Regions from separate parts of the Homo sapiens genome. Here regions 1, 3 and 4 are each linked to region 2. The links come from fine-mapping of genetic effects on plasma protein levels. A gene starts in region 2. Each other region holds a variant in brackets. All regions are shown on one strand. Distances are between the middles of the regions. Region 1 overlaps SVEP1 (sushi, von Willebrand factor type A, EGF and pentraxin domain containing 1). Region 2 holds the start of SVEP1 (sushi, von Willebrand factor type A, EGF and pentraxin domain containing 1). Region 3 overlaps SVEP1 (sushi, von Willebrand factor type A, EGF and pentraxin domain containing 1). Region 4 overlaps SVEP1 (sushi, von Willebrand factor type A, EGF and pentraxin domain containing 1).

What was found. PIP is the posterior inclusion probability: the model's chance that the variant is causal. Sun 2018 read protein levels with aptamers (SomaScan).
Region 1: its variant is fine-mapped to the plasma level of the SVEP1 protein (Sun 2018, PIP 0.95). The variant lies in the coding sequence of SVEP1. If it changes the protein, the assay may bind it differently, which can mimic a change of level.
Region 3: its variant is fine-mapped to the plasma level of the SVEP1 protein (Sun 2018, PIP 0.95).
Region 4: its variant is fine-mapped to the plasma level of the SVEP1 protein (Sun 2018, PIP 0.95).

What each region holds. Positions count from the first base shown.
Region 1 is chr9:110,545,011-110,553,211 of GRCh38, forward strand. It overlaps SVEP1 (sushi, von Willebrand factor type A, EGF and pentraxin domain containing 1), which reads right to left. Exons shown (of 48, transcript NM_153366.4): 2 at 4,839-5,094; 3 at 1,105-1,281. Among named protein-coding and RNA genes, the nearest start is that of SVEP1, 31 kb to the right of the region's middle. The variant G/C (reference allele first, on the strand shown) is at 4,941.
Region 2 is chr9:110,575,677-110,583,877 of GRCh38, forward strand. SVEP1 (sushi, von Willebrand factor type A, EGF and pentraxin domain containing 1) reads right to left here and starts at 4,065. Exons shown (of 48, transcript NM_153366.4): 1 at 3,337-4,065. The coding sequence starts at 3,867. RefSeq lists enhancers at 2,932-3,432, 3,433-3,933.
Region 3 is chr9:110,425,006-110,433,206 of GRCh38, forward strand. SVEP1 (sushi, von Willebrand factor type A, EGF and pentraxin domain containing 1) reads right to left here. Exons shown (of 48, transcript NM_153366.4): 31 at 7,457-7,630; 32 at 6,910-7,029; 33 at 5,269-5,445; 34 at 4,915-4,999; 35 at 4,138-4,329; 36 at 2,586-2,753. Among named protein-coding and RNA genes, the nearest start is that of TXNDC8, 91 kb to the left of the region's middle. The variant AC/A (reference allele first, on the strand shown) is at 3,768.
Region 4 is chr9:110,503,914-110,512,114 of GRCh38, forward strand. The region is part of intron 5 of SVEP1 (sushi, von Willebrand factor type A, EGF and pentraxin domain containing 1); the gene reads right to left. Among named protein-coding and RNA genes, the nearest start is that of SVEP1, 72 kb to the right of the region's middle. The variant CAAA/C (reference allele first, on the strand shown) is at 4,847.

The sequences.
Region 1 (8,201 bases), 31 kb before region 2:
AACATGTGGTGTTTGTCTTTCTGTGCCTGACTTGTTTCACTTAACAACTCCAGGCTCACCCACGTTGCCACGAATGATAGGATTTCATTCTTTTTTTATGGCTGAGTAGTCTTCCATTGTGTATATAGACCACATTTTCTTTATCTGTTCTTCCATTGAATAGACCCTGAGGTTGATTCCATATCTTGGCTATTATGAATGGTGGTACAAGAAACATGCATATGCAAATATCTCTTTGACATACTGAATTCCTTTCCTTTGAATATCTGCCCAGTAGTGGGATTGCTGGATCATATGGTAGTTCTCTTTTTAGTTTTTTGAGGAACCTCCATACTGTTTTCCATAATGGCTATGCTAATTCACATTCCCACCAACAGTGTTTAAGAGTGCCTCTTTCTCTCCATCCTTGCCATCATTTGTAATTTTTTGTCTTTTTGATAGTAGTCATTCCAATTCCATTTCGAAGTGATGGCAGTTTTAGAACTTTTCAATGCACTTTTGTGGAGGCTCCTGAAGAGTTTAAAAAGCCATCAAGTGAAGGATGCATTTTTTTATGTGTAAATCTTACCAGTTACATGTGGCCTGGGGACAAGAATTCCACTGGCTTCAATCTCATAGAGAGATTGAGGCACATTTTGGTTTACATGCCTAGAGGACAGATTTGGCTGTTTTATTAGACTAATTACAAAGACCCCAAATCTTTCTCCTCCCAGTTCTGAACCTAGGCTTCAAGGGGCCTTACAAGCTTCCATTCTTCTTCTTGGAACCCTGCCGTCCCCACCTGAACAAGCCTGGGCTAGCCTGATGGAGTATGAGAGGCCACATAAAGGACAGCCTTGTTGTCCTAGACAAAGCCATTTTAGGTCAGACTATTGTCAGACACCCAAACACATAAGAGAATCCAGCTGAGATCAGCCAGCAGCCTACTCAACTCACCGCTGATGGCAAATAAATGAGTCAGCACAGCTGAAGCCCCAAAGAGATGTGCCACTGACCCCACACACTAATGAGCAATAACAAGCATGTATTCCTTATAGCCATTGCATTTTAGAATCATTTGTTACACAGCAACAGACAACTGATATACACAGATTGGAGACTCACCTGTGCATTCATACTGCAGACCTTTCCCGTAATACCCCTTTTCACAGATGCACTCAAAATGGCCTGTGTGTGTCCCACATTTGCAGCTTCCCATTCGGTCACAGCAGTCCTTGCCTTCATCACAAAGATATGAGCAGTGGACCATATCATCTTGAATAAAACTCCCAGAAGGTAGATCTACAAATAACATATGACAGAGGGCGATAAAAATGAGTCACAGTTCAATGTTACATTCTCTGGTCATTAAAATTTAAGTGCAAGCTGGAGAAAATATCTTTCCATATCCCTCTAATTCCCAACTGCTTCCTGCTCCCACCCAAATACGAATGTGTGTTATTTGTACTAGCGCGCTCTGGGAATTCGTTGAAGCCAGTTAAGTTATTCCAGTCTGGGACCTCATCATAAGTTCTCAAGGCCATTCAGGGTCAGGCAGAAATTAAGTAGTGTAGTGAGGAATCTCCAGATGCTGCAGGAAACAGTGCAGTCAGTTCTGCAGGTCATTCCCCTGGCTTCCAAAGCAGCAGCATTCCACTGCCTCTGGGTGAGGTCAGGCCCCAGCAACGAGTCCCCAGATCCTTGTTCCAATGAGAAACAAAGCCACCATCCTGATCACTGCACAGAGATGTTAATTGTGAGCCACCAACTTTGGAATAAACACTGTCACTTCTATGGTATTTGAGTAGGTAAATAAAGACCATTCTTATTACTTGAGCCATGCTCTGAAGTGAGGCATGCTGGGAATGCAATAACTCAGGCAGACCTGTTTAGAAAGTGACTTGACAGGGTGGGTAAGGTTGAATATGATTGACCCAGAATGGATGGCCTAGAATCACACAAACAGTAAGTCCTTTATTCTTTTCAAGAAGTTTGAAAGTTTTAGACTAAATTCCAATACTAGGTCCATGGGGCTCTAAGCCCAGATATTGTGATGGGCTTATAGTAGGAATTCAAGTGGGTGAGTTCCAGCAAGACACACGGGCTGCAATTGGACACCTTGGAAGGAGATTGGTGGTAGACTCAAATATAGAACATCCATCTCCATGCATCTAGATAGGGGCAAAGCAAAGGGAAGATTCCAGCCCCAAGGGAAAGAAACCAGTGCAACCAGGTACCCTGGTAAGCTCCTTCCAATAGACTGTGGTGTGGGTAAAAGATCTGTAACACAGGCCCTTAGGACTCAGCTCTGAGACACTGGACCACAGGTTTATTTGGCAGTAAAGCAAGTTAGGGAGCAAGGAAAACCTACTTGTCCAGCCTGGGTAATGCAGTGAGACCCTGTCTCTACAAAAACAATAACAATTTTTAAAAAAATTAGCTGGGCATGGTGGTACATGCCTGTTGTCCCAGATACTTGGAAGACTGAGGTGGGAGGATCACTTGAGCCTGGGAGGTGGAGGCTGCAGCGAGGTGTGATCACACCACTGCACTATATAGCCTGTGTGACAGAATGAGACCCTGTATCAAAAAGGGTGAGAAGAAAAGAAAAGACAAACATAGCTGTCAAGACTAGTGTACCAGCATTCAGGTCTGGAAGAGAGATAAGTGGAGGAGGTACAAATGGGGAAAGCTATTATTCTGTAACCTATGTCTATCGAGAATGGCCAGAAACATGAACAGCAGTGAAACCCAAAGTGGATCCATCTAAATTGAAAGTAGCTGCAGAGAACACAGAGGCAGGGGAAATGAGGCTCATTTCCTTTGATCTGATCATGTCTTTCCAGTAAAAACAGGGTTTTACTTACTAAACCTAGAAACTCAACTAAAGTATTACACATTTTAGATATTAGTTTAGTGTAATAAATGTGGTGTCTCCTAAAACCCTATTGCATTATGATAACCAAAACCCTTTCCTTGTTGACTCTAGTTTCTGGGTCAACTTCCATCAGGACAGAAGTCTCCACTCCTAGAAGACAGAGGGATGACAGGAGCTGAAATTTGTTGATAGCACTCATAATTTCATAATCCCATCTGGCAACACCCAGTATCTCCAACTGCAACCACCCTGTTTTCCCTCTTAACATATCACTTTCCTTGGAGAAAAGGAGAAATAAAGGTAGCCAGTTGCTGAACTTCTTCCATGTGCTACATACTATATTGGTGATGTTTTAAATATCTTATTTAATCCTCCTGAAAACCTCTGTGATACATATAATAATAGTTTCCATTTTTAAAGGAGAGAAAACTGAGGTTCATAGTTGTTAAATAAATTGCCTAGGGGAATTAATAATGATAATTTGTTAATAAATAATAAATATCAGTAATAGTAGACAGTTATTGAGTGCTGAGTATAACAAGCCATCAGGAACTTTCTCATCCCTTTATATGTATTAACCCATTTAATCCTTGTAACAATTTTATGAAGTAGGTACTATTCTCATTTCCTATTCTATTTACAAGAAACCTAAGGAATATAAAAGATGAATGATATGTAAAAACAAAACAAACAAACAAAAAAACAGAAAACGTCAGCTAGTAGGTAACAAAATCGGGATTTAAATCCAGACATTCTGGATTTTTAAGGCTTAGCTCTTAAAAATTAGATTTCATTAAGTTGCAGGCCTGGAACTTAGATCCAAACCTGTTTAAACGCAAATCCATACTTTATTTCCCATACTCAGTTTCTTGCTGCTTCTAAGCCCTGTCCTAAGTCCTTGCTCACTTCACTAAAATCCCAGCCTCCAAAAACTTTGGCCAGCATCATCCCTCAGAGAGATAAATCTTTTTTGCTTTATGCATGGTGGCTCATGTCTGTAATTCTAGCACTTTGGGAGGCCCAGGTGGGAGAAATGCTTGAGCCCAGGAGTTTGAGACCAGCCTGAGCAACATAGCGAGACACCATCTTTATTTATTTATTTTTTTTAAAAAGAAACTCCAGTAGAGCTAACCCACTTATTATGAACATCACTAATTTCTTAGAACTCATGTTGCCATGGTTTTCCCCTCAAACTGAATCTTTCACATGGATATCTGCAAGGATCAAGCCTAATTTGCCATATCACTTTAATCTGAGGCTAGATTTCCTGTGATTTCTTCCTAGTCTGTATTTTCTTCTCCTAGCTCACTAAGACATAAACCTATATTCTGATAGGAAGTTTAATTTATATTACACAGCTAACTTATTATAATGTATAATTATGATTTAATTTTTAAATTATAATTTATAATTAAATTATAAGTGATGCACAGAAAGCTCTAATAATGATACATTTGCTGATTTCCTTCCCTTTTAGGGTTAATGCTCTTAAGCTTTTACATAAGCATATCTATCTTCAAATGGTCAGGGCAAGAAGTATGTGTTAAGTATTTATTGTTCCTGTATCTTCATGTGTATTTCTGGAAACATTCTGGTAAGTTTCACTGAGCATGTCTCTGAATGTTTACTTCCTCTGTCCAGATAACTGTAAAGAGATCTAAGTCAAGGCTTCCCACTCTGTGTGTGGCCTCAAAACACACCTAAATTCATTCCACTGATTCTAAGGTGGGAGCATATGGATATTTTAGTGAAAACACATAACAGCTGCTAAGAAAAAAAACAAAAGGAACTCTTGTTGCAAGGTCAGAATGTCATCTCTGTGAAGTTCAGCACATTTCATGATGCCCAAAGGACACATGGGCATCATATTCAGCAAAGACCTTGTGAGAGTTTGATATTACCCTCCCATGGGTTTCAAGCAGTGAGAGGCAAGGAAGCCTCATTTAAAAGTACCTTTGTGATGCCATTAGGTTTCCATTACCTTCATGCAATGCCCGGCGAGCTAAAGCCTCAAATTCTTCAAAACTGTGTAGCAGGTAACAGTGCTCCTCCTTTGGGGTGGAAGCCATGTCATTCAGCTCTC[G/C]AATGTTCCCTTGCCATATGCCAAAAGTGAAGATCTCCACTCCTGAATCTCGCAGTGACGCTGCAATTGGTCTAGGGTCTCCCCCATTGGAATATCCATCAGTGATGAGAAATACAACTTTTGTTGAGTTTTCTCTAGCATGAAGAAGAATTTGCTGTAATGAAATGGGGAAAGTTAATATGAGTGTGTACTGTCTTGCCTACTGTGTGCTTCTCTTCTTACGTAAGGCAGTACTTGCAAAGATCATTAGTATTTCACAGGCATGAGGGATGGAAGCCCTAGTCAGAGTAAAACAGAAATAGGCACAGATGAGAGCCTACAATGATCTTCTCACAGAGCCACAATAAACCTCAAAAGCATTTAAAAACTATCATCCTCATCAACATTGCTGATGGAGCTTGCTAATGAAGTACAACAAACACTTATGGAATGAATTTTTAATCAATATTATCACTTATTATTATATTATTTTTATTGATTCTCAGGCTCTCAAAATATGAACAAAATCTGAATCCAAATTCCACAAATTATCTATCTATCTATCTATCTATCTATCTATCTATCTATCTATCTATCTGTCTATCATCTCTATCCAAACCACTGCATGGTCATACACCAAAATCCTAATGGGAAGGAAATTTAACAGAACATGTCTTTTCCAGAGTCAATAATGGCTGACCTGCTTCCTATATTTGTTTTTCCACTTGCTCCTCCAAAAAATGTAGAATTGATTCAATACTTCATCTTTTTGGACCACCCGGTACTAGCATAAAAATAGCTAGTTTTGGTGGTATCCAGAAATACTGATTCACTAAATCTGACACTGGGACTTTATTATTTTAGGACAAGTGAATTCTGTTTTACAATGATATATGCTCTTCCTTCTCTACAGATAGAATTTTAAAAAATGAAACCTTTTAAAAAGACATTTATATATTGCCATTGATGCTTTGTAACACCAGACTATAAAGGCACAAGAACTCCAGTGGTGAATCTGGCATTTAATTCAATTTGCTGTTGTTGCTTTTCACTACAGATGAGTAGAAAAGATAAAGAAGCACCAGGGTATATTTTCTGGTAAGTTCTTAGAAGAAATTCCTATTAAAAAATAAATTAATTTTTAAAAAAGAACTTCATGTTTATTCCGCAAGAATTCAAGAAACACTACATGTTTTTCAGAAGGTAGGCAGGAAGAGTGACAACTGCATCCTATGTTGTGTTAAAGTGAAAAGGAGATATTGTGATTTTTAAAATGTTTGATACAATTCACTTTAGGGTGCAGACTCACTATAAGATCCAGATTCTCTCAGACTATGAGATCCAGATTCTCTCAGACTATGAGATTCATGTCCGTAGAAAGCAATCTTCATTAGTATATAATCAGTGGGTATTCATTACAATTCAATAATTCTTACCTAAATTTAGTTAGTGTTTGTGAGGCAAAGCTAAAGCTGCTAAACCTGAATTTAAGGAAAATTAAATGAAACTAACAATGCCTCCAGAAATATCTGGAAAGCCAGCAGTTTGAGAAGAGGTATTCAAACATTTCACCACACTCTTTCTCAAAAATCAAATGAGATCAAGGAAAATCGTACAGATGGGACCACACCAAAGACAGGCACAGAGGGTGGCTTCTGCGACGGAGTAGCATTCGGGACGTTACTGGAGACATTCCCCAAATAAACACACCAAGAAGCCCAATCAACACTCTCAAAATTCTTGGCTCTTAAAGTTTAAAAAGCTGCCCTCTTGATGAATGACAGGAAGATTTGGAATGAATGCTTGGTAAGTGTGAAATTTTTCCACACTCCAGAGAAGAAAAAACCTCTGAGGAGAGGAAGAGGGAAAGAGTTAGGGGAGAATGAGAAATGTGAGATGTTGCTGTGAGACCCTGAACTCTCCACACTCTCTCCACACCCCTAACTCTGTCACAGAAGAGATGATTGACAAGCCTCCCTTTAGGCATAGAGGTCCCCAGGTCCTCTTTCCATCTGGATATCTGGGATGGTGGTACATCCCAAAGAAGTGCCCTTGGTCATAATGACAGCGGACAATAGAGCAGTGGTACCCAACCTTTTTTTTTTTTTTTTTTTTTTTTTGAGTCAGAGTCTCACTCTGTCACCCAGGCTGGAGTGCAGTGGTGCGATCTCGGCTCACTGCAACCTCCGCCTCCCAGGTTCAAGCGATTCTCCTGCCTCAGCCTCCCGAGTAGCTGGGACTACAGGCACATACCACCATGCCCAGCTAATTTTTGTATTTGTAGTAGAAACAGGGTTTCATCATGTTGGCCAGGATGGTCTTGATCTCCTGACCTCGTGATCCACCTGCCTCAGCCTCCCAAAGTGCTGGGATTACAGGCGTGAGCCACCACGCCCTGCCACATGAGCCACCACGTCTGGCCAGTCCCCAAACTTTTTGGCACCTGGGACCAGTTTCCTGGAAGACAATTTTTCCATGGAGTGGAATGGGGCTGGAGGACAGTTTCAGGATGATTCAAGCACATTATATTTATTGTGCACTTTATTTCTATTATTTTTACACTATAATATAGAATAAAATAATTATACAACTCACTATAATGTAGAATCAGTGGGAGCACTCAACTTGTTTTCCTGCAACTAGATGGTCCCATCTGGGAGTGATGGGAGACAGGGACAGAGTGCACAACTTAGATCCCTCGCATACAGTTCACAATAGTGTTCACGCTCCTATGAGAATCTAATGCTGCCGCTGATCTGACCGAAGGCAGAGCTCAGGTGGTAATGCTCACTTGCCCACTGCTCACTTCCTGTTGTGTGGCCCAGTTCCTAACAGGCCATGGATCAGCATCAGTCCACGGCCTGGGTACTGGGGCCCCCTGCAGTAGAGTAAAACTACTCCATTGGGTGGTAAAGGAGAGGGCACCTGAAGAAGCTTATGTATTCCAGAGAGGTATAGCAGAGAAAGAATCAATGCAATTTTAAGACACCTGAAGGAGTCTTGCAATAATAAAGGTATGGCAGTAGATGACACCACAGACCTTGTGAGCCAAGAAGAGATGTGTCTCTCTTGGGCAATATCCATGGGAAGAGATCCTGGAAGCCGCAGGAGATAGCTGCATTAAAGGTTATGAAACTAACCAACAGACATGCGGATGACCAACAAAGACCATCATGACTATTGATGAGACAACTGGGCATCTCAGAGGATGGCAGCACAGGACATGTCAGAGCTGAGAGGTAAGTATCTCTTCCTTTGCTGTAACTTTGCCCAAGCCCCAGA
Region 2 (8,201 bases):
CATCACCTTAAACAAAATTAAAGCGCTGAGAAAAAATATTTGCCACACACTTGGGTCACTGACAGCTGAGGGTTAATACCATTAAGATTTAAAGAGCATTTGCAAATCAATAAGAGAGCCACCCCCAGTTAAAAACTGGATAATAATCCTCAAATATCTTAGTGGGTATTCAAAAAAAGGAGCTATATATGGACAATAACATGTTTTTAAAATATTCAGCCTCACTAATAGGGAAATGCAATTTAAAATGGGACTCCATTTCTCACTTAGAAAGTTAGGGGGTGGGGGATGGAATCTTCAAATGATATTAGCCAGCACTGGCTGGTCTGAACCCCAGGTCCTGACACTGGGGCTGCATGTGGAGGGCAGGTTGGCACCATTTTCTGCAGAGCAACTTGACACATGTATTAAATGTCTTAAAAAAACATGAATATTCTTTGATGCAATAATGGCACTTCAAGAATTTGCCTTAAGGAAATGATTAGAGATATGGACAAAGATTTAGTTACACAATGTTTGTAACAGCCTAAATACATAGTAATAGGTAGTCTCACACACACACACACACACACACTCACACACAAAAGCACATTCTACAGTGGAAAACTGTGACCCTGAAAAATAATGATAGTAGAAATATGTTCCTTATTTTGGAAAGAAGACTGAAATATATGGTGGGAATACAAAGTCAAATTACAAGAGGATGTACAATTGAATCCTTTTTCCTGGGTAAACATAATTTAGGCATAATATATGTATGAAAACATGCCTATTACCTAGACAACTGAATAAAGTCAAGGAAGCTATGTACCAAACTATGACGGTATATTTTCAGGAAATAGTTTTCCTGATTATTTTATTTTCTGCAATAAATATTTATTATCAGTAAAATAAAATATATATAAAAAGAGAAAAAAAGAATCAAAGAGACTTCAACAAGAATCCAAATATAGAAGGCATATTTTTAAAAATCAGTGTTTCTATACGTCAAGAAAAGTTGTTTGAAATTTAATTTTAAAAGATGCTATTCATGACAGTAATATTGAACAGAATATATTTAGATGTAAACTTGAAAAATATATACAGGACTTAACTTCTAAAAATCTACAACTTTGTTAAAGATGTATAAATGTATGTGTATAAAGAATATGCATAAATGCTATTAAGCAAATTATATGAACCAAATAGTGCTGGGACAACTGCTTATTCATTTAAAAAATAAAATTAGACATCTTTGTCACACTATGCACAAAAGTAAGTTCCAGATGGATTAAACTGCTAAATAGAAAACTATTTCTCTGATTTGGGAAATGAGAAGGCTATTCTAAGACTTTGAGAAAATATAAGGTCTTACACTTTTGAAATGGAAGAATTATTACTATAAAATACATATAATCCCCAAGTTAATTCAATATTTTCTATATTGAAATCAAAATCCTTACTGACTTCATTGGTAATATGTAAAAATGAATTTAAAATTCATATTAAATAATAAGTGGGTAAGAATTAACTAGAAAAAGAATAGATTTTTTAAAAGGAGAATTTGCACTACCAGATATTTAAATATGTTGTAAAGTTACAATAGTTAAAACATTTTGGCAATGATACAAATGAGATAGAGAATGGGATGAAATAGAAAGCCAGGAAGAGATCAAATACCCATAAGCATTTAGCACATGATAAACATGACATTCAATTAAATTGGAAAAGGACAGATGGCTATTAAGCAAGTAGTGCTGGGACAACTGGTTAACTATTTATTTTTTAAAATCAAGTTAGACCTCTTTGTCATATCATACACAAAAATAAATTCCAGATGGATTAAGCTGCTACATGGAAAACTATTTCTCTGATTTGGGAAATGAGAGAGCTATTCTAAAACTATGAACAAATATAGGATCTTAAGGAAAATGTTTGATAGATTTGAGTGTATAAAAATGTAAACCATTCATCTAACAACATTTCCATAAACAAAAATAAAAGGCAGTGAACTGGAAAAACATTTGCAACATATACACAAAAGAATTACTGGCCTCACTATATAAAGAACTTTTGCAAATCATTAAGAAAAAAAAACAAGCCAATGTGTTAAGAAAAAACAAACAAGCACTATAATGGCAAAATGGGCAAAAACTATAAATATCAGAGGAAAAAATACAAATGTCCAGTAGATGTACTGGAAAATGTTCATCCTCAAAAATCAAAAATGTGTATTTGCTAAAATGATGCCTCCATCACCTCTTAAATTGACAAAGATATTAAAAAGAATAGTATGATATTGGTGAATATGTGGCAAATTTACTGCTGAGATACTCTGCTGATGAGAATATAAATTTATACAACCCTCCAAGGGAGAAATGGACAATAGTATCAAGAAGTTACAAATGTTCATAACCTTTAGTTCAGGAACTTTTATAGAAATTCTTCCTAAAGATGTAAACAGAGGAGTCCACAAATATTTATGTTCACGATAACTTAGTAAGGAAAAATCCTAAGTGTCCAACAATAAGTGATTGTTGCACGCAATGGAATAGTATGCAGCTAATGTAGAACATTTTAATTAGGATATAACAAACGAAAAATGTAGGCTACAAAACAGCAAGATATTAAAAGTATGAATGGATGTACATACTGGGCAACTGTTCAACAACCTGCAAACAGTGGCTTTTTTAAAGTGATGAAATTTTAGGGTTTTTTTTTCCTCTCCCTACTTTTTGTTTAATTCAGTCCACAAACACTGGCTTGCTATTATGTGTTAGATATTTCTATATGTTTCTTTTTCCCCCACTGAATATGGATTAATTTGTAATCAGAAAAACAGACACACTTTACAAAAGTCCGACATCCCAAACTGACTTCCTCTTCCAGATATTAAAAATCTAATAAAGGATTGGAGCAAAAATAGGAAGGGCACGAATCTTACATTGAAAGCATAACATAACTTTAAAAAGAATTGGGGTTAGGTTTATATCACTCCATGTCCTACCTTTAGAAACACTTTGTAAACCATGCTCACCTGTTTCAGCTTGGATACCGTCTGCTCCTACAAACGTGAATGTGATTAGCGTTTCAAGGATCCCTTCCTAACAGGGTCCTCGAAGCCGACTATCTAAGGAGCCTGACATCCCTCTAAGCGTTTTAAAATCCATTATCCCATTGGAACCTCCACAACAATAATAGGCGGGTAGCGATGACTCTGGTTTTGTGGATGGGGACGCTTGACTTGGGGTGGTTATGCCTTGCCCAGGACTGAACCCCGGGATAGAGACGGGCAGGCAGCGGTGGGTCGAAGGGCCCGGGGACTAGGGCCCGGGTCGGGAGGGGCGGGCGCCTTACCGCGGCTTGCTGGAAGGCGCCCTTGGTGTAGGTGCCGCCACCTCGGTAGGAGATGGCAGGGATCTCTTGGAGGAGCAGCGCGCACTTGTGCTGGCGCGCGCGGCGGGTGGAGATGTAATCGACGCGCGGCACCACGTAGTTCTTGGACGAGAAGGTCACGATGGCCACGCGCGTGGCCGTGGGCACCACGGGGAAGTCGGACAGCAGCTTGCGGACGAACATGAGCTCGCTGCGGAAGTTGACTTCGCCCACGCTGGACGAATCATCCACCAGGAAGACAAGCTCCAGGCGCTCGCTGAGCTCCCGCAGCAGCCGCACGCGTCGCCGGAACGCCTGGCCCAGCCGCTCCACTCTGCTCCCCGCCGCTTCGTCGCCAGGAGCGGGCGGCGCGGGGATACTCCCGGGGGCCCCGGGCGCGGTCTCGGGGAAGAGGCGGAAGCTGAAATTGCGCGACGGGGACATCTGCTGAAAGGTCGCCCAGCCCGAAACGAGCGCCAGACCCCAGCAACAAAAGGCCAGGCGAGGCCACATCGCGCTGGAGACAGAGCGGCTGCCCCGGAGCGCAGGCGGCGGCTCGGGCGGGAAGAGGCGCTGGGCGGCCGGACTCGCAGAGGGGCGTGCGCGGAGCTGGGCGCGGGGCAGCGGCCAAGAGCCTCAGCGCCCTTTCATCTGACACTGGGGACAGACACAATCCAGACTCCTCAGCAGCTCGGGAACTCCGGAGGGAACGGCGCGCGCTCTCTACCCCTCTCGCTCTCCTCTTTTTTTCTTCCCTCTCTCCTCCTCCTCTCTCTCCCTGAAGCCTATAAAATGTTTGAAGGAAAGGGGGCAGTCAAGAAAAATCTCCCGCTTCCCTCCTTCTCTCCCTCTCTCCCTCTCCCCGCTCCTGTCTACTTTCTGTATCTGTGACTCTATCTCCCTCCTCCCCCTCTCATTCTCCTCCCGGGATCAAGCCAAAGGCTCGGAGATTCCATGACACCAGAACCCCGCGTCTGTCAGGCTGTCAACATTCCCGCAGCAAGCGCACCAGCGCCGAAGCCCTGATTGATCCCATATGTCTGGCAGGAGCTGCAGAGGAATTCACTGGAGATGGATCCAGATACCGAGAGTGCCACAGTAATTGGAAACACTTTGTAGACGAAAACATACACGCGGACTGGCCAGGGAGTTGAAAGCATCCTTTGAAAACTGCTTGCTCACCTTTTGTGTTTCTTTTCCCCCATTCAGTGTCCCAAAGCCCTCGCCAAATAGATGATTGTACAATTTTCCTGATGGGGATTTCTAATCAGTGGTGTGTGTGAGCGTGCAGATTAAGCCCTTAAGGGCCCCCTCAGATCACACCATAAAGGAGTTGCATCTAACCTTATGCGTTCCACAGGAATGATTTGTCATGGTACTTCAGTCGTGCATTTATTCATTCATCTGTTTGTTCATTCTTTCCTGATTTTAACAAATATTTTTTGAATACCCATTGTGTGCCAGGAACTATGTGAGGCACTGCAAATATAAGGAACAAAAATTGACAGGGATTCTATCCTCAATGAACTTAAAGGGTAACAAGTGAGGTGACCATTAACCAGATATTAACATACAAAATATATGTAATTACAAGTGACCATGCTAAATAAAGGAGAGCTTAGGTAGACAGACTTGACCTTGGAGAGGCCAGAGAAGCCTTCTCTGAGGACAGAAAGTTTGTGCTGAAGTCTGAAGTGTAAGTAGGGGGTCCCCAGTCCCCTTTCATGTGTTCTTGATCTATTTCAACAGATAAGATCCACCTGGCTTTAAGTGGTACCTGGCATATATCTGCTTTGAAACAAGTTGCTACCTGGGGTGGTTTTTCCAAAGCAAGACCTCCAAAGGGGAGAGCGCACGTGTAAAGAAAAGGTGCACTTTGCATGAGGGTGGGGCCTTTGGTTAAAAGATTCCAGCTGGGAGTCAGGAACACCGTGTAGGTAAGCCTACGGTTATGTAAACCACCTGAACTGAGTCACTTCCAATCCTTGGCTCAGCATCAGTATCTATTTCATGATGGAATTCAGTGATCTCAGTTTCCTCTGTTTCTAATAGTGAATGATTTAACTCCGTCTGTATTTAACAAAATACTTTCAGTGACAAGTATCACAATGTATTGTGTAACATGTTAGGGCTCTGGCATCAGTTTTCCTGGACGAAATCATGACTCTGCCATTTATTAGTTGTACAGCCTTGACTCAGTTTGTTCATTTGTAAAATGGAGTAATAACGATAACATATTAAGGGCTGTCATAAGGATTAAGTCATAAAAAAGTAAAATTCTTAGGACAATGCTTGGAGCATAGCGTGTACTCAATAAATGCTGGCTGGTTGCTCTTATTGCCACCTTTAATCATGAATGTTCTTCAAATTATTTTCCTAACAATACTTATTGACCACCTGCTATGTGCTGGCATGTTAGATACGGAGGATTTAAAGGTGAATAAGACTGAGTTCCAGTCCTCCAGAAGTTCAAAGAACATTAGAAAAGAACATAGATTTGCAAACAATTACAAAGCAGTAGGGTGACTGCAAAAGCAGAGAAGAAAGAGCAAGGAGGAGAAAGATCTCGTTCTTCCTGGGGAATGAGTAAGACTTCATTTGAGCTGGGACTTTTTTAAAAAAAAAAAAGTTTTTCCAAATATCATCTACTCTGTGTTATTTAAAACACATCATGAAGCCCTTTATGTGCAAAGCACCGTGGCATCTGCAATGTGTGCCATCTCCTGTGTTCCCCACACAAACCAAGGAGGTACTCAATTGCTTTAGAACTCTTGCTGCAAGTAAGTGGCACCTAATGTCTCCTCATTTAAACAAAAAGGGATTTTTTGGTTAGTATAACTAAACTAGGGAAAGGGCAGAGGGTACAGCTGGTCTCAAAAAGGCTTGGAAAAGGAAATTAAAAACTACTTAGGTCTTTAATTTTTCTCTCAGTTTGGCTTCTTTTTGGATGCCACATTTAGTCTCTTCTTCGGATTTATAACCTGAGAAAGACTTTTACCCCACCAACTCAAGTTAATAATATTTTGAGATGTCTGCCATAGGCCTAGACACATTCAAAGCTCTCTGGATAATTCTAACACATGCCCCAAGGGTGAACGCCTAAGAACAGCACTCTGGCATTGTGTACCTCCAACGGGATGAACAGTCAGGCCTATGTTACTTGTCCTCATGGTAAGAGAGTGGGGACACATCAGTCAGAGAAGTCCTGCCTGAGTGTTATTAAGACTGCTGCTCCAAGTCTTGCCACCGCTCCCCAGAGCCCTGTAGTCCCTTCTGCTCTCTAATCTAAAGCAGTGGTTCCCAGCGGGAGAGATTTGCATGTCTCACTCCCAGGAACCTTAGGCAATGTCTGGAGACATTTGGGGGATGGGGCAGTGCTACTGGCATCTAGTGTATAGGAGTAAGGGGTGCAACAAAACCTCCTACAATGCACTGGCAGCCACCACAACAAAGAATCATCTAGCCCCAAATGACAATAGTGGTGAGGTTGAGAAACTCTGGCCTATACCACAGTAATAGATGCAGAAGATGACAAAAACTTGTTAGACTAAACATTAAGATTAGAAAGGCTGGGCACAGTGGCTCATGCCTGTAATCCCAACACTTCAGGAGGCCGAGGCGGGTGGATCATTTGAGGTCAGCAGTTCGACACCAGCCTGACCAACGTGGTGAACCCCTGTCTCTACTAAAAATACAAAAAAAAAAAAAAAAAAAAATAGCTGGGCATGGTGACACATGCCTGAAGTCCCAGCTAGTCGGGAGGCTGAGGCAGGATGATCCATTGAACTGAGGGGGCAGAGGTTGCAGTGAGCCTAGATCGCACTACTGCACTCCAGCCTGGGCAACAGAGTGAAACTCTGACTCAAAAAAAAAAAAGAAAAAAGAGGAAAAGAAAAAGCAACTTAAAGGTATAGAAATGACAACATGGAGCTGAAGTGTAAAAAAAACCTACCCTGACTTCCTGACTTCATCTCATGAAATAAAGACTTCTGGAAAAAAAAAAAGTGTGTTGGTGGGCTAGGGCAAGAGGCATGCATTATATAATTCTCACCACCTAAACTGTGATTCAGAGTCCCACATTTTGTTCAATCAGGAATGGAACCTCAATCCTGTCTACCCGCTGGGACCTCTGCTTGAGTCGAGGACACCAACTACACCCTCCCTTCACAGCACCCATCTTTCTACATTGAAGCTGATACTGTGAACAGATAAGTTGCAACGTGCATATGGGGAAAGATGGAAGAGGGACTGAGGAAGAGAGCAGAGTGGTGCTGGTAAAGATCCTCCTGAGATTCCAAGCATCAAGTCCAGTCATGGGAGCAGAGGCAGGAAAAATGTCTGTTTCCACGCATGCTAGTTGTCATGTTTTGTTTTAAAAACAAAACTATAACACAGTGTCAGTGAATCACAGCGGCAGGCAGTGGAGATAGGAGGAAGATGCCACCTTGTGACTGCATTATGACTGTATTTATAAGAATATCTTTCTGCCGTGAATTTAACAAAGACATTCTCTCACATACAGAGGTTGGGAACATCTGCCACTCTATATGTTTCTTTTTAAAAAAAATTCCCATCAGTTTTTTGGGGAACAGATGAGTAAGTTCTTTAGTGATGATGTGTGAGATTTTGGTGCACCCATCATCTGAGCAGTATACACTGAACCCAATTTGTAGTCTTTAATCCCCCACCCCCTTCGCACCCTTTCCCCCTGAGTCCCCAAAGTCCATTGTGTCATTCTTATGCCTTTACATCCTCATAGCTTAGCTCCTGCTTATGAGTGAGAACATACGATGTTTGGTTTTTCCATTCCTGAGTTACTTCACTTAGAATAATAGTCTCCAATCCCA
Region 3 (8,201 bases), 150 kb before region 2:
TTGTTAAAAATTTGGCCAGAAGAAATGAACAAGAGAGAGGCTTTCCTTCCAGTCTGGCCACTTTCAGAGCACCCCTAAAAGGGCAAAATGCATATTAAAGGGGCATCATTTTTCTTCTCATCAAGAGTTTTAATTTCAGAAAAATAAAACTGTCTCCTAACAGTTATTTTTTTTTCCTTTCAGAAAAAGACTACACGTGGTAGTGATTTGGGACTATGTGTACTTCATATTAATTTGATTAGCTAGCTCAGATAGCTTCCCCATATATTATTGAAATGTCATCACTTTATATGCTAATAATGATACAGAAAACAATAAAGCCATATTTACATCATACTTCATATATATAACACACTTTTATAAAAATGGTCTCATACCCTTTAACAATTACATAATTTAGATGGGCAGATCTGATTCAATCTTTTCAATGACAGAAAAAGTTTCCACAGACTATGATCTTGCATAGAACAAATGGGCCTGTAAGAGAATGTGGCCCAACACCTTCATGTCTTAGCTATAAAGTGGGAATAATACTTCTTCTGCCAAACTCCATCTTTGTAGAAGGAAGTACATGAGATGATTCACATAGAATTCCTCTAAATAAAAAATCCTCTTCAAATGAATAGATTTTTTAATCGTTTTCATAATTGTCTTAATTGATTCTTTAAATCACTTTTAGATAAACGTTAGGCAGACATAAAACTCATCTTACTATATCTTCTAAGTGAACAATTTGTGAGGATGTGTATGATTTGTGAAGAGGAAAAGGTATAAATCTGTACATGTAGCATCATCTTTAATATTCAAATATACATGCAAAGACAAAATTCTAGGAAGAAATGAAGTAAAATATTACCAATATTTGTCTTTGGGTAATAAAATCATGGATGACTTTTAAATATAGATTTTGTGTTTTCTAGTTGTATATGGTGATCATGCATTACTTTTTAAATCAGAAAAAGCCCCAGCAATAGTCAATATCTAGATATTGTTTGGAACATGTATATTTGCTAAGATTTCACAAACATTTAAATGACTAATTTTAAATAGTCCTATCAGTTCATTAGGGGTAGTTTCTTATGTGAGTGAGTCCACAGGGGATAGATGGGACAATCAAAAGCCATTCCTGCATTGACATTTTAATATTAAAGATTCCTTGTTCACTTAAGAAGATGTTAAGATTTGGGCTTCAGTTATTTATGCAAGTCTTTAACTCTTATTATCTTTTCGCAAGAAAATATTGTTGCCACCTGCTGGCAGTCATGTATTAGTGGAATGGTTTTCTACTCCTGTGAAGTAAAATCCAACTTCCATGAAAATACAGAAACTGCACCAATCATCATAATAATGGCTAAGTTTGTTGGGTTCATTGATTTTTTTTTTCTGGTTAGGCCATGTATTATATCATTTTATTTCTCACAATATCCATAAGTATGAACTCATTTTATGCAGGAGGACCATCAAGGCAGAGCGGTCACACTATTTCCCTAAGGCCCCACAGTTAGTGAACAACAGAGTTGAGATACAAATCCAGAAAATGGCAACTTTTCTGCTGTGTCAGCTTGTGAAGAACAACTGTAGTAAATCTGGAGTGTGAAAGCCCTATTGATGAAAATATTTATTGAGGATGCATAGAGAAAAAACAATGATTGCAATGAAATGAAACTCAGATGACCTGAGATTTAGCCACCCCTCCATACTTTATTGGTTGCATTGAGACCCTAAACTGATCATCCCAAAGGGAGTCTTTCCCTTCACTGTCCCTCACAGGGCTTTTGCTAAGATCAAATGAGACAATGAGTCTGAAAGCCCTTCGTAATTTGTTACCTGGTTTCCAGAGGTGATCTCTGAATTAAATAAGATCCTTAGAAATGTAAAAACCTGAACTTTATTATCTTTTTTCCTCCCTGTAGATATGTCATCTTTATGTTATGACTTAAGTCTTGCCTTTGGTTTTGCAGAATATAAATACACGAACGCTCACTTAAAGGTACTTTTTGCATCTTAGTAGTACAATATAAGGCTGGGTGCAGTGGCTCATGTCTGTAATCTCAGGCTGAGGCAAGTGGATCACCTGAGGTCAGGAGTTCAAGACTAGCCTGGGCAACATGGTGAAACCCTGTCTCTACTAAAAATACAAAAAGTAGCCGGGTGTGGTGGCAGGCGCCTGTAGTCCCAGCTACTTGGGAGGCTGAGGCATGAGAATTGCTTGCACCTGGGAGGTGGAGATTGCAGTAAGCCAAGTTCATACCAATGCACTCCAGCCTGGGCAAGGTGATAGAGCAAGACTCTGTCTCAAAAAAAAAAAAAAAAAAAAAAAGTATAATATGAAGATATTTTTTCACTGCATTGCCCAATGTCCATTATTGAGGGTCTAATTTGATATACTACTCAAATTCCAGGAAAATATTATTTCCACAGGAGAATATACTCCGTCTCTGCAGGTAGGAAATAAAAGCATAAGGCTCTCTTTGTCTTTGGCTGCCAGGAAATTAAATTTCGTGTCCAATGGAGCCCATCTCTGCAGTCAGGAGCATCCACTTCCTTGGCTCTCAATGATCCTTTCCTTCACAGGCCCTACTCACCCTTCTTTGCAAGTGTAAGTGACGGTGTTCCTGAAAGTGAAGTTATTCCCCGTAATGACAGCATCTTTGATGGCAGGTGGTTCTCCACAGAAGACGAGGTGACAGGCAGGTGGCGCTCTGTCCCAGATGCCAGAAGCCGTGCATTCAATAATGGAAGGGCCCTGTAAGCTGCGGGAAAGAATGATGTTACTCTTTCATTGGCTATGGATTTGCTGCTATGGAGATAAAACAGGAAGAACTCTGGAGAAAATAAGGGACATTTGAGGAATTTGAGTACACAAAAATAGCATTTCTTCATATTAGATTGCTTTATATGAAAGCAAGAGAAATCTAAACAAGCTATACACCATTTGAAACAATGAATGGGTGAAAACAATATAACAACAGTAATCACTTGGTGCATAGTAAAATATTGAATCTGCTTATGGGCAGTGGTGTAAGGCACTCCAGACCTGTGAAGAGCAGATTACTTGGATGAGAAGGGGTTCATTAGACTGGTTAGAATCCAGCAGGAAGAAAGACACTCACCTAAGTAGCCAGGAAATCAGGGCAACTAAGGTCAAAGGGAACTGTCCAGGCCATGAGCCTGGGCATTTGAACCATGCTGCCCCTGACTCTGACCTCTGGTCTTCCTTTGACTTAAACCTCACATCCCTATGCCATGGCTTATCTGCCTTTCTTCTCAACTTGATTCTGATAGCATGCTTTAATTCACTCCACTTTCTCTTCACTCGATCTGTTCCACTTCAGATCCTGTTGATCATGTTTCTGATCACAGTCTGACTTTCTCCACTGTCCCCTCTGTTTAAACACACACACACACACACACACACACACACCATTAATCTCCTACAGTGTTAAGAACCTAGCCCCTTATCTTGACATGCTTTTTCATAACATTCCATGCAATGTTGAGTACGTTTGGTAAGCTGTTTATAAAGAAATCCATCACAAAAGCATTTATCGGGTATTCTGTTTATGCTTCATAAACTATTTTTGCTTTCATGTTTAAAGTCTGAATGCTTACAGCAATTGAACTAGGACTCTCAGAGTCATAGTTAGATAGAATATTTTCTTGGGCATTTACCATTAGCTAGGTAGGCCTCGGGAAGCATACAGATTTGAGAACATCCTCATATTTATAAATTTGTTTTTAGAGTCAGCCAGTCACGTACAAATGAA[AC/A]CTATTGAGTAAAGAATACAGGCACGGTGGCTCACACCTGTAATTCCAGCACTTTGGGAGGTTGAGGCAGGTGGATTGCTTGAGCTCAAGAGTTCGAGACTAGTCTGGACAAAATGGCGAAACCCACATCTGTACAAAATACAAAAATTAGCTGGGCATAGTGACGCACACCTGTAGTCCCTGCACTCAGGAGGCTGAAGTGGGAGGATCGCTTGAGCCTGGGAGGCAGAGATTGCAGTGAGCTGAGATTGCGCCACTGCACTCTAGCCTGAGTGTCACAGTGAGACCATGTCTCAAAAAAATTAAAATAAAATAGGGAGCGAGTAACACAGTATTGTAGAAAGCTTGGTTGGTGTCTACAAATGTTACCTGTATCCTGTATCGCATGAATATGATGCAGTAGAAAGGTAGGTAAGCCCACTCAAAATATATTTTCCATTATTTATATTTTCCGGACTAGAACACTTCACTGGTTCACACACAGGAGGGGAATGACTCCAAGAACTGTTAGCAAGACAGGATGATTCTTTATCACCGGCCAGAGTATATCCTTTATTACACCTAAAGAAGATAGAGGAAAATTACAGGATATAATTTGCTTTATTTTGCATGCCGTTATCTGTGCCAAAAACCTCTAAAAATATTAAGAATTTATACATATTGGAAAAGTTGATTTTTTTTCCTACTGAAATAATGCTTTTAAATTAATTTTTTTTTTCAAGATTGAATACTGTATATCTTCCCCATAGGGAAGTAGGATAGATTTAAGAATTTGGCTTGCCTTCAGTTTGTGTCATGGATTAGTAACTACAAACAGGGAATCCTTGGCTTGAGAGTGGTGTGGTCTAGTCTGTTTCTGAGACATCAAGAGTATTCATTAGCTAGGAGCATCCACTCTCAGGGTGCCTCAAGGGGGCACTGGAGGTAATGATAGATTATTGGTCAGGGGATTTAAGGATTCTAGATATAACTACCATTAAATTATTGGATTAAGATTTGTTCACACTATGTATCATTCGATTAATTACATATTAATTCAAAAATGTCCTCTGCAATTATTTTCCCACCCCCTTTCTTTCAGTGTTATATCACTACCAGTATGCCATCAACATCTTCTACAATATAGTTTTAATCTTAGATACTTACCTATATGTCACTTTGCTGCCAAAAGTAAATGCTAACTCCTCAATGCAACCATTTTCTGGAATAGCCGGTTTACCACATGAAACAGCTTAACAAAGGAAAAACAAACACGTGACTTTTTTGAGACTGTGTGCAAAAATCTTTGAAATTTCAAGGGGCAGCTCAAGATCTTTTTTTGTTTGTTTGTTTTCTTTTTTTTTTTTTTTGGTGTGTGTGTGTGGGGTCATGTTTAAACATGAGCCTAATACCTCAGTTCAAATACAAAGAACATTGATACAACATAACACTTCATATGTCTACGCCTTACCTTTCTAGGATTGCCAAACATAAGAAACGTGGTAAATTTACTAAACATACCTTTACAATATGGTATTAGATGATTCCATTCTCCAGACTCCAAACATGTGATTTTGGTTACTCCCATCAACTGGTATCCTTCCTGACACGAAAATGTGACTTCGGCACCTACTGTATAAATCTCACCTGAGGAGTGGCCATTTTCCGGATTTCCTGGAGCCTTACATTTTATAGGTTCTAGAAACAGACAGTTTTGGTGGAATAATAAGTGGCTTTCACACAACCATGCAAAGTCTCACAGCAAAAGAATTCCACTATAGTTAAGAAACCTGTTAAAATCGCAAGAGAAAACCTCGTGAAGGGAAATGCATGAGGGCCCAGAGACACATTGGACATTAGACCAGAACATACATTTAATAAGCATTTAAGCAATAATAGTTTGAAACAGCAATTCCTAACAACAATATACATAATTTTTCTGGCTGCAAAGGTAGGCGCTCATTGGGAAAGTAGTGGTGGTGCTAGAGAGTGGCTTAGAAGGGCATTAGCCTCTTTCATCTGTTCCCTCTTCATACCCAGTTTTTCAGAGCAACTGACTTGGTGTCAGGCTGATGGAAAGGCTGAATAAAGCAGATTCAGGAAAGTTTCCAGCCTCCCTTCCCAAATAGAGTATGGGCTCTGGGCTCTCCCTATCTACAGATTCAGGGTCGGTCTCCACTGCTATAATAGGAAGGAGAAAAAGCTAAAGCAAGGTTTGGGCCAGTGTTGAGCAAGAAAAGTGAATATAATACTTGAATTCTCAAAACGGGAGGATATATTGCATCAATCTTTTCAAAGGCCATTTGAGCTATATAAGTCAAGGAGTTTAAACAAATTCTTAAAGTAAATGCAATTATGAGCTGATTTTGAGGAAAACAGCCAGAGGTAAGCATAAAGATGTATGTCCAAAGATGCTTATTAAACTGTTTTCCATAGTGAATATCACCTAATATTAACATACAGAGAAAAGTTACTTATGGAAAATCCATAAAGTGAATTATAAAACAGGAATTAAAATCCTGCTCTCAAACTATTTTGTGACACCAAAAATGTGCCTGATATAATATTACATGAAATAACTAAAATAAAGAACTGTTTATATGGTGTGTTCATATAGACATCTTATTGTTTTCCAGGAGTTACTCTTCACAACAAATGAAGAAATACAACAACGGGTTGAGAGATGATCTGGTATTATCAAAGCTATTTCAAAATATTGTAGTGCAAGATGTCTTGGGGAGGCAAGATGTCTATTTTTTTTCAATGATATAATTTTATGTGACTGAGGCAGAGGAAAGATATTGATAGTGAAGATGTGATAAAGCATCTTCCTTGCTCTGATTGAGGCAGGGATGTCACTGATTATATTTCTATATCCACTCTATTATTCTTGTACTATGTAGACGTTTCAACATTGTAGAATCATAGTTGGCTGTCAGTTTTGTTTCTGAGAAATTGGGAAGTTGGGGGAGGCACAATGCTACTTTAAAGCACTTTTAGTTGTTACTGATGTGTCTTTTGTAAGAACTTTATCTTATCTGCCTACCTGTATGCCCTTTGAAGTTGAAACAATTATCTCACTTAGAAATAACATACACTTAAAATATGTACTTGAATAAAAGAATGGAATTAGGAACTTTTAGTTCTACATATATTGGTTACCTGCACAGTTTTTCCCATCTCCTGTGTACGGTGGGACACATGAACATATGTAGGATCCATCTACGTTCAGGCAAGAAGCATGCTCACTACAATCTGATCCAACTGCACACTCATCGACATCTAAAATGAAGACAGCTTATAAATATTAAAGTTGATTCCTTTTCCGTATGTATCAAACATCTGTTTTTACTTTTAAATCATTACATATCACGTAATGCACAACACTTCATATATTTGTATAGAATTTAAATATAACAGTCATAATCACATTGCAGATATACAATAAAAGCTATTATTTCCCTAGTTTATAGGTGGGCAAGTATAAGACAGGGATATATAAATATAGTCTTAATATGGAGCCTGATAAAAATTTAAAACATTTCTGGCACCTCTACATACAGCTGCTTTGTCACTATGGCTTGGCCAGAGCTTACTGGGATGAGATAAAGTTAACAAAGCAATGCCTCAAGAACCTCAGGAATTTGGGATGACTGTCATCTACAGAGCTAGAATAATCTCATATAGTAGTTGCCAACATTTATCTCACCAAGGCAGGATGGTGAAACGCCGTTCCAGCTCCCATTATCTGTACAGAACATCCTTGAGTCACCCAATAGATAGTAGCCATTGTTGCACTGGTAGGTTACTGTGCTGCCAGCATAGAAGTCATCGGCTGAATGGAAGCCATTCTCCAAAGGAGGTGGCACCCCACAGCTAATGCCTGTAAGGTGACCAGGAAGAAGACAACGACATTAAGAGCAAAATACTCCAAGAACACTTTATTTGTATTAAACTAGCAGTTCAGTTAAGCATGACATTTTTACTGAATGCAAACATCAGACTGAGGGTGTCCTAGGGATAGCAGCAGCCTGAACCCTCAGCGTCTAGCACATTGCCTGGCTCACAGTAGGCATGCAATTCATTTATTCAAAAAACATTTACCCACTAGACGCTGATAAAGTTTGGATATTTGTCCCTGCCCAAATCTCATGTTGAAATGTGATCCCCAATGTTGGAATTGGGGTCTTGTGGGAGGTGTTTGGGTCATAGGGGCAGATCCCTCATGGCTTGGTGCTGTCCTTGCAATGGTGAGTGAGTTCTCGTGAGATCTGGTTAAGTGTGTGGCACCTCTCCCTCCACTGTCTCTCTTGCTCCTGCTTCTGTCATGTGATGTGCCTACTCTTGATGCCTTCTGCCATGAGTAAAATCTCCTTGAGGCCTCCCCAGAAGCTGAGCAGGTGCCAGCACCATGCTTCCTGTACAGCCGGCAGAACTGTGAGCCAATTAAATCT
Region 4 (8,201 bases), 72 kb before region 2:
GTAATATGCCCAGCTAAAAGATTACAACTCTCCACCTCTACCTCAACTAATGAGAGCCCATAATATATAGCTGAGATTGAGCAGGACTTCTGGAAAGCTTTTTATTTTTTTATTTTATTTTATTTTATTTTATTTTATTTTGTTTTGTTTTTTGTTTTTGAGATGGAGTCTCACTCTGCTGCCCAGGCTGAAGTGCAGTGGCGTGATCTCAGCTTACTGCAAGCTCCACCTCCTGGGTTCACGCCATTCTCCTGCCTCAGCCTCCCGAGTAGCTGGGACTACAGGCGCCCTCTACCACGCCCGGCTATTTTTTTTTTTGAATTTTTTTATTAGAGATGGGGTTTAATTGTGTTAGCCAGGATGGTCTTGATCTCCTGACCTTGTGATCCGCCAGCCTCGGCCTCCCAAAGTGCTGGGATTACAGGCGTGAGCCACCGCACCCGCCCTTGGAAAGCTTTTTAAAGGGGGCTGTCTCAATTGAGAGAGTACTTCTTTCCCTTCCCTGCTTCCTTCTCCTTTTCTTCCACAATACAGACATGAGGAATGGTAGCCCAGCATACTAGAGTATAAGTATATGATACTGTGGGAACATATCATGCACCATGATGGTATAGCAAAAAACATAGGAAGTCTGGCTCTCTGATGACAGTGGAGCTATTACACCAACTTTGGATTACCTACTTCTGTCCTTGTTTTAGTTAAAAGAAAAATGAAGCCTTAATTGGCTTAACACATTGTTATTTGGGTCCCTGATACCAGCTATACACAATTTCTAATTCCTTCTGCCCAGCATTTGGGTCCTTGATACCAGCTATACACAATTTCTAATTCCTTCTGCCCAGCATTTGGGTCCTTGATACCAGCTATACACAATTTCTAATTCCATCTGCCCAGCATCCATTAACTCTTCCTTTGTTAATTTTTTAGGGAAAGATCTTCCCCCTTTCTTGGATCATGGGATGTGTGTGTGCTCCAAACGTGCTCGGGGTAGAGCATGTTATCTAGGAGCACATTTCCCCGGCCAGAGAAGTGAGCAGGCACAACTTGTGACATGGTTTTCTTCATCTTCTTTGAATTCACCATGAGAAAGCAGTAGGAAGGATATTCACTAAACTGCGGATGCTGAAAACGCCCCCGTACCTCAGCCAGCCTCAACATCACCATCAGAAAAAGTGCCACGAGTTATCCAGAGAAACCTGCATTTCCGCGGTTCTGCCACCTTTGAGTCTCTGTCCTCAACATTACATCAGAGAAGCTACCAGAGAGCACTCACACTGTTCCAGCCTCTGCAGGTTCCCCAACGATGTCTGTGTTCTGAGTTTTCCTGGTAAGAGTCTCCAACTGCCCACTCAAACCCAACAATGTATGTTAGAGTCCATTTCCATTGATTTCATCATGCCCTCTATTCCTGTTGATGGCAATCACTTAGAAAGTCCAAGGCTCTATAGTTATCCCTCATCCACCAGGGTTATCCACATGTAGCTGTGTTCCAAATCTATCCCCATAGACCCTTGGACCTGCCCCCTAGAATAACGATGGTTTCAGTTAATCCCCTCATATCCTAAACTTCCTTTTGAGCAACTTTTCCTTCACTTGATTGCCCTAATAAAAATTATATTGTCTTCTGTAACAGGGACTGGAGGTGAGGAGGTGTCTCTGTTGCTCCTGATTGTCTTCCCAGATCATTCTCTCTCCTTCCTTCCTAAAAACTTCCAGCTCCTTTGAAGTATCATATTATATATCCAATAACCTTTTTTAAATTCTCTCTCTCTCTCCTTTCTCTTTTTTCTCTCTCTCTTTCTCTCACACACACATATACCCACACCTTAGTGACTTCCTTATCTATGTAAATGATCATTCCAGTATCCTGGAGTTATATTCCTGATCTCTTATTTTCTTTTCTCTCTTTTTTTTTTTATTATACTTTTAAGTTCTGGGGTACAGGTGCAGAACATGCAGGTGTGTTACATAGGTATACACATGTTATGGTGGTTTGCTGTACCCATCAACCTGTCATCTACATTAAGTATTTCTCCTAATGTTATCCCTCCCCTAGTCCCCAACCCTCTGACAGGCTCCAGTGTGTGATGTTCCCCTCCCTGTGTCCATATATTCTCATTGTTTAACTCCCTCTTATGAGTGAGAACATGCAGTGTTTGGTTTTCTGTTCTTGTGTTAGTTTGCTGAGAATGATGGTTTCCAGCTTCATCCATGTCCCTGCAAAGGACATGAACTCATCCTTTTCTATGGCTGCATAGTATTTCATGGTGCATATGTGCCACAATTTCTGTATCCAGTCTATCATTAATGGGCATTTGGGTTGGTTCCAAGTCTTTGCTATCGTGAACCCTAGAAGAAAACCTAGGCAGTACCACTCAGGACATAGGCATGGGCAAAGACCTCATGACTAAAACACCAAAAGCAATGGCAACAAAAGCCAAAATTGACAAATGGGACCTAATTAAACTAAAGAGCTTCTGCACAGCAAAAGAAACTTTCATCAGAGTAAACAGGCAACCTACAGAATGATCTCTTCTTTTCTAATGATCATATCCTTCACCTTATCTCAGCTTCTACCATTGCCATGCCCTCTAGACCTCGCTGTCACCAATCCAAGTTTCCTAGTCTCTGACAATCACCTCTTACCTTCTGGGATCACTCCTTCAAGTGCTTCAATCCATCAGTTCCCACACCCTCCAGGAGCCTCTGATCTATCATCTTCCGTAGTCTCCTCTTTAGAGAAAACCCTCTTGAAAGAGTTTATAATCTTGTCCTACACTTCTTGTCCTCTAGTTCTAACTTAGACTCTCTCCAATCAGGGTTTCCAAGCAGGGGAAGGAGGGAGGAGCGTAAAGGAGAAAGGAAAAGTCGTGAAGAAGGGAGGGGAGAAGAAAGGAAAGAGAAAGGGAGGGGAAACATAGGTGGAGGAGATGAAGAGGAGAGGAGAGGAGAAGAGGAAGAGCAGGGTGAGGGGAAGGGGAAGTCAGAGCAGGAAAGGAGTAGGGGTAGGGGAAAGAATAAATAGGGAAAAGAAAGAGGAAGATGGGGAAGCTGTCAAGACCCATGGAAAATGCACTCTCAGTCAGAAGGCATGCACATTCCATTCACGAACAGAGATTGGAGAGGAAAAAAGAGTCGGTGCCTGTTAAATATGCCAAATGATGGGGACGTATATTCATCTTGATAGATTATAGATAGAACCTACAAGCATTGGACATCGTACAAAAGACAGAAATAACCCCTACAAAAGAATAAAGTTCAGTTTCCTCTCAGAGAGCTCTTATAACAATCTCTAAAGATTTTTGAACAAAACATTTGGGACTCAAGAATTTTGTTGAGACTCCGGGTGGGATATATTTTTTCTTCTTCTACTTTTCTGCATTTGCCAATTGTTCATACCATGCATACATTTAGTTACGTCAAAGACAACCTTAAAATACCAGGAAAGGAAGCTGGGGGCAAAATGTTCAAGTGCATATTCAATTGAAGTCACTGTTTGAATTTATTCTACAATGAACCCATTCAAATTATATTAATCAGCAGAGCATAAGTATTGTGTGCATTAAATAAAAGTTTAGGATCCATTACTCCTTAGAGAAAATGCAAGAGTTAGATTAGAGATTAGATCATAAACCCTAGCCTCTTTTATCCCTGGAATGGCTTGGACCAAAGTCAAGTATTAATAAAAAATGATCCGAAACATTTTGCCTTCCGTGTTTTAATTTTTCCTGAATGTGCCCATTTATGCAAATAGAATCTTTATTGTGTCTATCAAGTGCATGAAACATCTTGTCTTCTGCATTTTGACTTTTATTGAGTGTGTCCTTCATGTGTATCCCAAGGCAAAGTATGAGGTGGGATTAAAAGGTGAATCAGATAAATTCTGATGTATAAAATTTGGAAAACCATATTAAACAATGTTTTGGCTTCAACAAACTGCCAAGATGACTCCAGCTTTCCTAACCTGAGACAAAATGGATTTATTACTGATAATAAATTAGAGTCGGTGCCTCATATAGATGCAAATTATACTGCTTCTCAGATGTTGGTATTAATAAACTTCCATTGCTCCCCACTGAAAACAAAACATATGCAATAATTCCTATTTATTCCTTAAACATTTCACTCAAGAATGAACACTTAATACCATTTTAATAGGTACACACTTCTTAAAGAATTTTCAACTTATATTTTTTTCATTTCAACATGCCGAAAAATCCTGCAATTAATATTTCTTGACTTACATTTATGTTATCACAATTCCTAAATATTTATTTGGTCTTTTTAGAAAATAGCAACTTAGACTTTTAAGAGAAAAGTCTACTTGTAGTAGACAATATAAGAAGCTACTCTGGTTCCCATCTTAAAGACTAATCAGATTTTTTTTTTTCCAGGCACGTGCTTCCTATTAGTCTCCAAATTGTGATATCTATTACTGAAAATAAAATAAATCTGATGTTAAATGTAAGGTTCTCATTGGTTGAACCTTTTTACTCAGGTTTAGTTAGTTAAGATTGAGAAACCACAAAAGAATCCTTTCCTGTTTAGAAAGAAATGCAGAATTCTGGCCGGGTGCGGTGGCTCACGCCTGTAATCCCGGCACTTTGGGAGGCTGAGGCGGGTGGATCATGAGGTCAGGAGATTGAGACCATCCTGGCGAACATGGTGAAACCCCGTCTCTACTAAAAATACAAAAAATTAGCCGGGCATGGTGGCGGGTGCCTGTAGTCCCAGCTACTCGGGAGGCTGAGGCAGGAGAATGGCGTGAACCCAGGAGACGGAGCTTGCAGTGAGCCGAGATCGTGCCACTGCACTCCAGCCTAGGTAACAGAGCGAGACTCCATCT[CAAA/C]AAAAAAAAAAAAAAAAAAAAGAAAGAAAGAAATGCAGAATTCAGATAAAACTGAAAATGAGTATAAGTGCTTTATGAAAAGTGCATAGGAGAAGTGAGAATCAAGTTTACCAATTATTAGTCAACATCCACAAAAACATTAACAATGTAACATGATATTTGTAAAAGGCTTTAGATTTTATGCAGGTCTTTCATTTCTGCCTCAATCTTACACATATTTTTGAGAAAGTATAATATAACTAAAATTATTCACTGTTCTTATAATTAAATCTGTAAAAATATACTACTTTCTCCATACTACCCACCATGAAACAGACATGAAATCCTACCCAACGGCCATATTTCATTGAATCCCCATTGTAAGACACAACATTATTTTATGTGCCACTAACAAAGAAACAATAATGCCAATTAAAGGGTTTGCTGCAACTGATTTTAAGATGCATCTCCATTTTAGAGATGTTAAAATGTTTTAAAAAATGTGTTTCAGATTTAGTGAAATATGGCATGTGTTTCAGATTTAGTGAAATATGGTATGCGTTTCATAGAACAATATCTGATGTAACTAAATACACTGAGCATTAGTGAAAGTGTAAGGGCCTGGGTAAGTACCTTCATTCAGTACAACTTTGTATACTGGTAAGTTAGCTGTAGCTTTGGTGGTGAAGTTGAATTGTAGCATCTCTCCTTACTCTGCTTTAAATTATTTTATTTATATTGGAATTGCAATTGAAATTACATAAAAGAGAACAAGCATGCTTTTTTGTAGTCAAGGTCTCAATCTATCACCCACGCTGGAGTACAGTTGTGTGATGATGGCTCACTGCAGCCTCCAACTCCTGTGTTCAAGTGACCCTGCTGCCTCAGTCTCCTAAGTAGCTGGGATTACAAGCTTGTGCCATCACACCCATGCATGGTTTTTAATATGAAGTGACAGAAGCAGGTCATCAATGTATATACTGTAGTTATCAATGTACATCAACGTATACATTTATCGATATGTGTATTTGTTAACTTCAAGTTTCCATTCATTCACCAGAGATATCATCAATGATTGAGGGGCAGAAATAAATTCTGTGCTCATAATGAATTTGGTTTAGCAGAGGAGGTAGACAAGTTAATTACCAATAAAAGTGTGATGCTTTGTATTGTGACAAGTTAGTTACATTGGGAAATATGTTTGCCAGAATCCCTTTATTGTGGTTCCAAGTTAGGGTTGATCAAAAGAGGAACTTGCACTTGATTTTGGAAGGCAGAAGTGAGGAAGTGGTCATTGTCATCAGAGTCAGTGATAGAAAAATGCAGTGATGCCCAGGGGGTTCCAGCTTGCCCTTGCTTGCCTCCATTCCACGTCCTCACTGCTGATCCCATGACCAGTGGTGGCCCCATGTTCATTGCAAGGTTCTTGGCTGCAGAGCCACAGGGGCATAACTACACAGAGGTAAAGCTTCTCTTAGACCTTCCATGAGTTTCTCCTTAGCAATTCCACTTCAAAAGCTGGGTAGCCTCTCAAGTTGACTTGTCAAGAACTCCTCTGATCCTCCCACTCCTCTTCTGTTTCCAAGCTCCTTCTAAAATTGTGTAAGCTCTATTCCCTGAAATAAATCCTTCATCCCATAACATGCATGGTGACTGTGCTTCCTTGACTGACCCTGACACATAGCATAAGAAACATAATGAGGGGTGGGGGCAGGTCTGCAGATGCACAGATGCACGTGTAGAGGTCACCCCATTCAGGAGGAGGAAGTTGGCAACAGTGGAGGGTTGAGAGGACCCAGAGCAAAGGCAGAGCCAGGCTGTGGGAACAGCTTCAAAGGGCCGGCTTCCTGAGAGAGCATGGCTATTTCTTACAGCTTTAGGATCAGACGCGAGGCTTGATTATGGAGGGTGCAGGCTTGAGAGGCAGGGGCCAGACCTTATCCTGAAAGGGCAGTCTTCTCTGATTTTCTCACTCCTCTTTGGAAGGCTACTGAGTGGCAAGTTAAAATGTAATATTTCCCATCCTCTACCGTAAGGTATTTGGAAGAAGGGGTAAAGATTTTACACAGAACTTAGAACTATTGACTTCACGAAAATATATTTTACAAGCTTTCAAGGATTCATTTTTTCAGTAATGGTATGTGGCTTTTTACCACTTGAGGCTGCATGACTGAAAATGTCTTTCCTTTGCCTTCACACATGAACAGTAGCTTGCCTGAGTTTAGAAATCTAGGGTCTATTCTTTTCCCTCAGAATCCTGGCAACACAGTCTTATTTTCTAACATTGAGAATGGCCAACAAAGGGGCCTAAGGCTAATCTGATTCTTTCTCCTTGGTAGGTAGTGTTGTTTCTAACTATGAAATGGACACAGTTTTCTGTTTTTCTAGGGCATTCAGAAAATTCACTAAGATTATTTCCCGACATAAATCTGTTTTTAATATTTTTTTTGTGGCACTTACTAAGTGATTTTAAACTGAATATCCAAGATTTGGGTTGTGAGTATTTTCAAAATTTCAGCTCAGGGATATATCTTTAGATCTTCTACTGGTGCATCTCCTCCATTCTGTTCTCTCTCTGGATTCCTCACGTGAAAAGAGTCTATTTCCTGTGACTATTCTCATGTTACTTTATTCTTTCATATTTTTATTTTTGGATTTTTTTGATTGACCTTCAAATGAATTTCTTGAGTTAGTTTTCTAATTTATTAATTTGACTTCTAACTAGGTCCATTCATTGTGTCAGTACCTTTTTTTTTTTTTTTTTTTTTTTTTTTTTTTTTTTTTTACTTCTAATACATATTTTTCCTCTCAAATTTCTTTCATTGCTTGGAATCCTGGCCTTATTTTAGCAATGTAGTTGCCTTTGAATCTCAGTGATTCCATTTTTCTTTCTTTTCTGTCAGGTCTCTTTTGTTCAATCTGCTGATCGTTTTCAGTTTTCCTTGTCTTTTGGGGATACCATGTAGGCCAATTTACATTTATAGATGAGTTCAGTATTGGTACCTAATAAATTGGTACCAACATAGATGTCTCCTGGGATTCACAAATGATCTTGGAGTCATGAGTAGGTGGTTCTCCCTTATGGATATGGATGCCAAGAAAAGACCAGAAGACAGAACTAATCTTTAACCAGTGGTCCAGCTGATTTGTGGGGTTTTGGAGTAGTCAAATCCTCAGCAAAGTGTTCTGCCAAAAAATGACTAGTGGATGTGGTGGGAGTAAAGTTGCCAGATTTAGCAACAAACAAACCAATGAACCAGCACGCCCAGTTAAATTTAAATTTCAGAAAATCAACAAATAATTTTTTAGTATAAGGAGGTTCCAAATCTTGCAGGGGACCCACATATACTAAAATATTATTTATCAAAAATTC